Linked DNA regions of Homo sapiens. The protein of the gene in region 1 interacts with the protein of each later gene in a pairwise test. Each region holds a gene or a part of one and is shown in the gene's direction. Other genes may lie near its edges.

The links.
Region 2: the proteins of BCL7A (region 1) and ALAS1 interact in binary tests that used the Homo sapiens proteins (3 or more experiments, as listed by UniProt).

Annotation. Positions count from the first base shown.
Region 1 is NC_000012.12:122,024,768-122,028,579, forward strand, and holds part of BCL7A (B-cell CLL/lymphoma 7 protein family member A), read left to right. Parts: intron 1-3,812.
Region 2 is NC_000003.12:52,211,437-52,215,082, forward strand, and holds the end of ALAS1 (5-aminolevulinate synthase, non-specific, mitochondrial isoform 1 precursor), read left to right. Parts: coding exon 1-115; intron 116-821; coding exon 822-984; intron 985-2,572; coding exon of another isoform or gene 2,573-2,583; coding exon 2,584-2,744; 3' UTR 2,745-2,891; downstream 2,892-3,646.

The DNA of each region.
Region 1 (3,812 bases):
ATTTGGGACACACTTATACTAAAACATTATCTAATTTATCTGAAATGCAAATTTAACAGGGCACCCTGTATTTTACCCAGAGGGAAGCCGAAGTGTTTGGCAGATCATTTGGCCCCATGAGCCTTGGGTGGGTTTCTCCTCAGCCCTAGTGACCCCTAAAATTACCCCCCCGACCCACCCACTGTCCCCTGATGCTTCCCCCACCCCCGGAAAAAGCTGTGGCCTCCCTCTCATTTGGGGCAGGCTGCCTCCTGTTCTCTTTTTCTGGTGTTTCAGCAAGGCAGGCCAGTGGAGGTGAGGTGACCAGAAGATGGCTAAAGGGAAAACAAAATGGTGGGCCTCTTTTTGGGAAACTGGGCCAGGGTTTGGGGGCCCTGTGCTGGTGGAGGAGAGAAGACCCCAGGGCGATGGTAGGAGACGAAAGCTTGGGCTGCAGCGTAAGCTTGGAGGCCCGCTGCGGTGGCTCACGCCTGTAATCCCAGAGCTTTGGGAGGCTGAGACAGGAGGATTGCTTGAGCCCAGGAGTTTGAGACCAGCCTGGGTCTCAAACCAAAAAAAAAGAAAAAGAAAAAAAAGAGCCGGGCGCGGTGGCTCACGCCTGTAATTTCAGCACTCTGGGAGGCCGGGCAGGCGGATCACGAGGTCAGGAGATCAAGACCATCCTGGCAAACATGGTGAAACCCCGTCTCTACTAAAAAAATACAAAAAAATTAGCCAGGCGTGGTGGCGGGCGCCTGTAGTCCCAGCTACTTGGGAGGCTGAGGCAGGAGAATGGCGGGAACCCAGGAGGTGGAGCTTGCAGTGAGCGGAGATTGCGCCACCGCACTCCAGCCTGGGCAACAGAGCGAGACTCCATCTCAAAAAAAAAAAAGAAGAAGAAGAAAAAAGAAAAATTAGTCTGGACGCAGTGGCTCATGCCTGTAATCCCAGCACTTTGGGAGGCCGAGGCAGGCAGGTCACCTGAAGTCAGGAGTTGGAAACCAGCCTGGCCAACATGGTGAAACCCTGTCTCTACTAAAAATACAAAAAATTAGCTGGATGTGGTGGTACACGCCTGTAATCCCAGCTACTCTTAAGGCTGAGGCAGGAAAATTGCTTGAACCTGGGAGGCGCAGGTTGCAGTAAGCCGAGATCGCGCCACTGCACTCCAGCCTGAGCAACAGAGCAAGACTCCATCTCAAAAAAAAAAAAAAAAAAAAAAGAAGAAAGAAAAGAGAAAAGGCCGGGCACGTTGGCTCACACCTGTAATCCCAGCACTTTAGGAGGCCGAGGAGGGAGGATCACGAGGTCAGGAGATCGAGACCATCCTGGCTAACAGTGAAACCCCATCTCTACTAAAAATACAAAAAATTAGCCGGGAGTGGTGGCAGGCGCCTATAGTCCCACCTACTTGGGAGGATGAGGCAGGAGAATGGCATGAACCCACGAGGCAGAGCTTGCAGTGAGCCAAGATTGCACCACTGTACTCCAGCCTGGGCGACAGAGCGAGACTCCGTCTCAAAAAAAAAAAAAAAAAAAGAAAAAAATTAGACAGGCATGGTGACCCTCGTCTGTAATCCCAGCTACTCAGGAGGCTAAGCCTGGAGGATCACTTGAGCCCAGGAGGTTGAGGCTGCAGTGAGCTACGATTGTGCCACTGTACTCTAGCCTGGGTGACAGGGTGAGACCTTGTCTCAAAAAACAAACAAAAAAAGTAGGCTTAGGCCCAGGACCCCTTAGCACCTGGTCTGAGGGTTCCCTCAATGACTTGCTGTGAGGACTGAGAAAGGTCTGTGCCTGAAGAGCTCCCGTCTGTCCCAGGAGAGGTAGAGGTTTGGGCCTGAGGCCTCCCTCACCTCAGCTCCTCCAGAGGTTTCATCATGGAGACATTCCTACTGGGCACATGGCAGGTCAGGCAGACCTGGGCCTAGCTAGGGTGAGGCCAGCCATGGGCCAGGCCTCTTGAGGTGACAGGGACTAGCCATGAGGAGTGAGTACAAGGACAGGGAGTAGAGCTTTCCTGGAGGGAGTCAGCAGGGTCCCCTTGAGTGGTGGGTAACCCTAAGATGGTCTTGTTGGCTAACCCTTGGACCTGGACACAGGAGAACATTCGAAATTGGCCTTAGCCTGGAGAATCTGGGATGGATTCTTGTAGTTTATATAGGAGTCCGTGCTGGGGAGGAGCAGTTGGGGCTATATTCCTACTGCTGGGACCTCATTTTTTCCTTTCCTCCCAGAAGCTCAAGTGTAATGGGAAGGGAAAGGTGTTGAAGTCAGGGTAAGGTGACGGGGCCGCCAAGACAGGAGGCGCGGGGCACACCCAGGGCCAGCTTTGCAGCAAGTTGGGCTGCAGCCTGGTGGTTGTGGGGATTTCTGCACCTGGTGCTTACAGGTGTCAAGAGTGAGGGCATCTGAGGGGGGCCAGAGAGCCCATCTGGGGCAAGCTGTCGCTCCCTGGGGCATGTGGGCCCAGGTCATGTTTTCAAGAGTAGCCAGAAGTCTGGATTCTTATGCAAAGCCTGTTTTGTTGTTTGTTTGTTTGTTTGTTTGAAGTTTGGCAGCAGATTTAACATTTTTAAAGTACTGTGCAGGCCAAACAAAACACGCCTGTTGACTGGTTGTTTGCCATCCTAAATATAAAGTGGGGCCCATGTGTGGTGGCTCACACCTGTAATCCCAGCATTTTGGGAGGCCAAGGCAGGAAGATCACTTGAGCCCAGGAGGTCGAGGCTGCAGTGAGCAGTGATCGCACCACCGCACTCCAGCCTGGGCAACAGAGGGAGACCTTATCTCAAAAAAATAACAAATAGGCTGGGCACAGTGGCTTATACCTGTAATTCCAGCACTTTGGGAGGCCAAGGCGGGTGGGTCACCTGAGGTCAAGAGTTTGATGTCAGCCTGGCCAACATGGTGAAACCCGTCTCTACTAAAAATACAAAAATTAGCCGGGCGTGGTGGCATGTGCTTGTAGTCCCAGCTACTCAGGAGGCTGAGGCAGGAGAATCGCTTGAACCCGGGAGGCGGAGGTTGCAGTGAGCCGAGATTGTGCCACTGCACTCCAGCCTGGGCCACAGAGCAGGAGTCCGTCTCAAAAAAATAAAAAAAATAAAAAAATAAGAAAGTGATGAGTATAGCTTAATACCCTCATTGGGGAAGAGGAGCAACGCCCTTTTTTGGGGAGGGGTATGTGTTCTGTGGTGATGGTTTTGGGGGGCAATTGTGGGAAACCTCAGCTGCTCCGCTGAACCCGTGTGCCCACCCAGTGTGTCTGTGGCTGTGAAATCCCATGTCCTCCTGGGTGCTCACTTGGTGCCTTAAACTTGAGCTCCATGGCCCCTCCGGGTGGCTGCTTAGCTGAGCATAGGTCCAGCTCAGAGGTAGAATTCTTAATGTTCTTGCCTCTGTCCCAGAGTCCCCTCAATGTCCACACCTAGAAATACAGTTTCTCATCACTGGGGTAACTTGAGAACTCGGTGAAGAGGTTGCCAGTTGGGGCAAAGAGAGGCACGAAAGCCTGGCTGCATTCAGCTTGTAGCCTGCGGTGGCCTCGAGCCTCGCTGGGAAGCAGCTGCAAACTTGCATCTTGGCTGATTTGCGGCCGCAAAGCCCAGATCTCTGGCACACTTTCTGCCCTGAAAGGTGTCCTGTGTGTTACAAGTCAATTACTTTTTTTTTTTTTTCCCAAACACAATCAAACCTTGAATGGGTTGATTTACTGGGAAGCTGGTCCAGGGCTCATGAGTAATGAATGGCTTTGGCCAATCTGCATGGAGTCCTGGCAATTTGTCATTCTTCCTCCAGCTTCTGTTACCCTGGCGCTCCTTTAGAATGAT
Region 2 (3,646 bases), on another chromosome or scaffold:
TGAGGGACGGGTGCTTCGCCGCCAGCACCAGCGCAACGTCAAACTCATGAGACAGATGCTAATGGATGCCGGCCTCCCTGTTGTCCACTGCCCCAGCCACATCATCCCTGTGCGGGTAATGGCCTGTCTCTGATTGGACTTGCCGTGGGGTGTGCCTCTACACATGATGTACGGATGTTCTGCTTCATACCTTCCTGAAGTTGGGCTTGAGCGGGGTGACTGCCAGGGCAGGGGTTGTAGCCAGCCACCCTCTGTCATGTTTCCGCCATTGGCTGACTTCACCAAGAGAAGAAAGCCTTTGAACCCAGCAGGCTGGGGCAGAAGTTCCCTCTCCGGAGCACTGACCTTAACAGGGTAAACACAGAGCTTGTATCTAGAAAGCTCCAGAAGCCTGAGCTTGGCCAGCTTTGAAGTATGGCTTTCTACTTAGTAAATTTCAAAATAGGTTTTGCCCTTCCCACTACAAATGGTAGCACTGTTGATGTCACAGTTGAATTAGTGTAATGAATACAGCTAGTATAACTGAATCTAGATTATACATCGTGGGTATGAGAGTCTGCTGGTACGAACAGAACCAGTGTTTTCTGATTAAAAATGTATTTCTTTTTAATAAGGTTTTGGTTCCCTGGTGTTCACGAAACAACACTGGCTTCTTTTAAATGACAGGTGTTTGGGCAGCGCTTTCCCTCTGCCCCAAGCTTGCATGTGTTGCTACAGTCTGGTCTTGAGCCTGAGCGTTGTGGGGACTGCGTTCGTTAGGATCTCTGCTAAGAGGTAGTCCTTCCTGTTGTGACCTTACCTTCTGCTCTCATTGAACTTAGGTTGCAGATGCTGCTAAAAACACAGAAGTCTGTGATGAACTAATGAGCAGACATAACATCTACGTGCAAGCAATCAATTACCCTACGGTGCCCCGGGGAGAAGAGCTCCTACGGATTGCCCCCACCCCTCACCACACACCCCAGATGATGAACTACTTCCTTGGTGAGTACCTGGGGAGCTGCTGGTGCCTCACTGAGGAGTTGCATAAAGCTGTCTTTGCAGTGTTTATAATTGAAGCCCTTCAGAGGCATTCAGATTTGTTTCTTCTTCTTTTTTTAGTTTTTTTTTTGAGACAAGAGTTTCGCTCTTGTTGCCCAGGCTGGAGTACAATGGCACAATCTCGGCTCACCGCAACCCCTGCCTCCCAGGTTCAAGCGATTCTCCTGCCTCAGCTTCCTGAGTAGCTGGGATTACAGCCATGCGCCACCACGCCTGGCTGATTTTGTATTTTTAGTAGAGATGGGGTTTCTCCATGTTGGTCAGGCTGGTCTCGAACTCCCGACCTCAGGTGATCCACCCACCTCAGCCTTCCAAAGTGCTGGGATTACAGGTGTGAGCCCTGGTGCCCGGCCTGTTTCTTCTTTTTCCAAGTAACTAAGCATGCCCTCAAATGGTTCAAAACCCTAAAAGGTATTTATTGTCTGATTCACATCAAGAGGGTGGAGAGTCATTTTGGGAGCTCTGAGGGAGCCTGGGAATCCGCTCAGTGTTTCCAGTGCCCCCTTGTCTACGTGGCTGAAGGATGCACAGTAATGACTTGCAGGGAGAAGAGGCCTCTGAAGGCTTGAGTCCCCGCTGTCCCTCCGGAGTCCACCTCACATTTGTCTTCACCACTGCCCTCTACTCCATGATGTTGTATAATCCTTGAATAACCCCACACCTAATCGCCTCTGATAAGAGGAATTGCTCAATATTTTCAACTGCCCCGTGGTTCTATACTGCTCCACCCATGTCCAACCTAAAGGCAGAGATGGAAGGGGGCTATTAGCCACAGGTCACCTCTGCCTCGAAGGTACATTGCCTTCCCAAGCCCGCCCAGCGTGGCTCAGCTTCCTCACAGGCTCTCTGTTCTGTTGGAAATGCTGGGTTTAAACTGTCACGTGGCAGTGTTGGAGCAGCTTCTTCCCTACAGGCCTGTGAAATCAAGCCCAACTCTGGGTTTTATTTTTCTCTTTATTTATTTTTATAAAAGCCTTAAAATTTTTATAAAAGCCTTATCTCAGTAGAGATATAGCTCACTTACCATAAAATTCACCCTTTTAAAGTATCCAAGTCTATGATTTTTAAGTACACTCCCAGTGTTATGCAACCATCACTTCTATCTGATTCTAGAACATTTTCATCACCTCAGAAGCCCCTACCCATTAGGAGTCACTCCTCTTTTCCCCATCCCCAGCCCCTGTCAACCACGGCTCTTTCTGTCTCTATGGATTTGCCTTTTCTGGACCTTGTGTCTAAGTGGAATCATACCGCCTGTGCTCCTTTGTGTCTGCCTTCTTCCAGCATCATGTCTGCAAGGCTCATCCATGCTGTAGCATTCATCAGCACTTCATTTCTTTCTGTTACCAAATAACCTTCCATTGTACAGATTTACCACATTTTGTTTATCCGTCTATTGGTGGACATTTGGTTGTTTCTCTTGTTAACTATTATGAATAATGCTGCTATGAACATTTGTGTACAAGTTTTTGTGTGGACATATGTTTTCATTTCTCTTGTGTATATTACTCCCTTTAATATTTAAAAACTGTTTCTCCTCAGAGAATCTGCTAGTCACATGGAAGCAAGTGGGGCTGGAACTGAAGCCTCATTCCTCAGCTGAGTGCAACTTCTGCAGGAGGCCACTGCATTTTGAAGTGATGAGTGAAAGAGAGAAGTCCTATTTCTCAGGCTTGAGCAAGTTGGTATCTGCTCAGGCCTGAGCATGACCTCAATTATTTCACTTAACCCCAGGCCATTATCATATCCAGATGGTCTTCAGAGTTGTCTTTATATGTGAATTAAGTTATATTAAATTTTAATCTATAGTAAAAACATAGTCCTGGAAATAAATTCTTGCTTAAATGGTGGTTCTTTCTGCTATTGGCTACTGGATAACATTCTTCATTGGCTAGACACAGTGGCTAACACCTGTAATCACAACACTTGGGAGGCCAAAGCAAGAGGATCACTTTAGGCCAGGAGTTTGAAGCTGCAGTGAGCCATGATTGCTCCACTGCACTCCGGCCTGGGTGACAGAGCAAGACTGCCTCTGAAATAAAAAATAATAATTGTCATCATCCCTTTAAGTTCAGTCTGTATTCTAGGAATGAATAAACTGAATGAAGTACTGGAGCTCTGGTAATGGCTTCAGAGGAGGAGCAGCAGAACCTCCCACTGCTTGAGCCCTGCTACCTCCTTAATGCCTACTGTATCCAGTGGCTGACCCAGCCGCACCCGGCAACTGAACAGTTTTGAAAGAGTGACACCACCTTGGCGGCCGGTTTCACTTTAAACTTCTCACTTCACATCTTCAATGGACAGTCAGTGCTGCCCAGCAGTCCTGCTACAGCTGCCTCCCCCTGACTTTCCCTTTCAGCTACTGCCTTGACCCCATTCTTCCCTGTGAAAGTCTGGGCGTCAGAAGACTGGCTTGTCTGTCACCACCCTGTCCTCCAGCCTGTCAGCTTCCTGCACCTGTAGTTGTGTCCCATCCAGCAAAGGCAGAGGGGTTTGTGCTCCTCATCCTGCCTCTCTCCGTTTGTATTTCAGGTCCTGTTGTTTCTTGCATGGTCCTGCAGCCATCTCTTTGCTGCAGAATTTCTCCCCCTCTGCTGGTTCATTC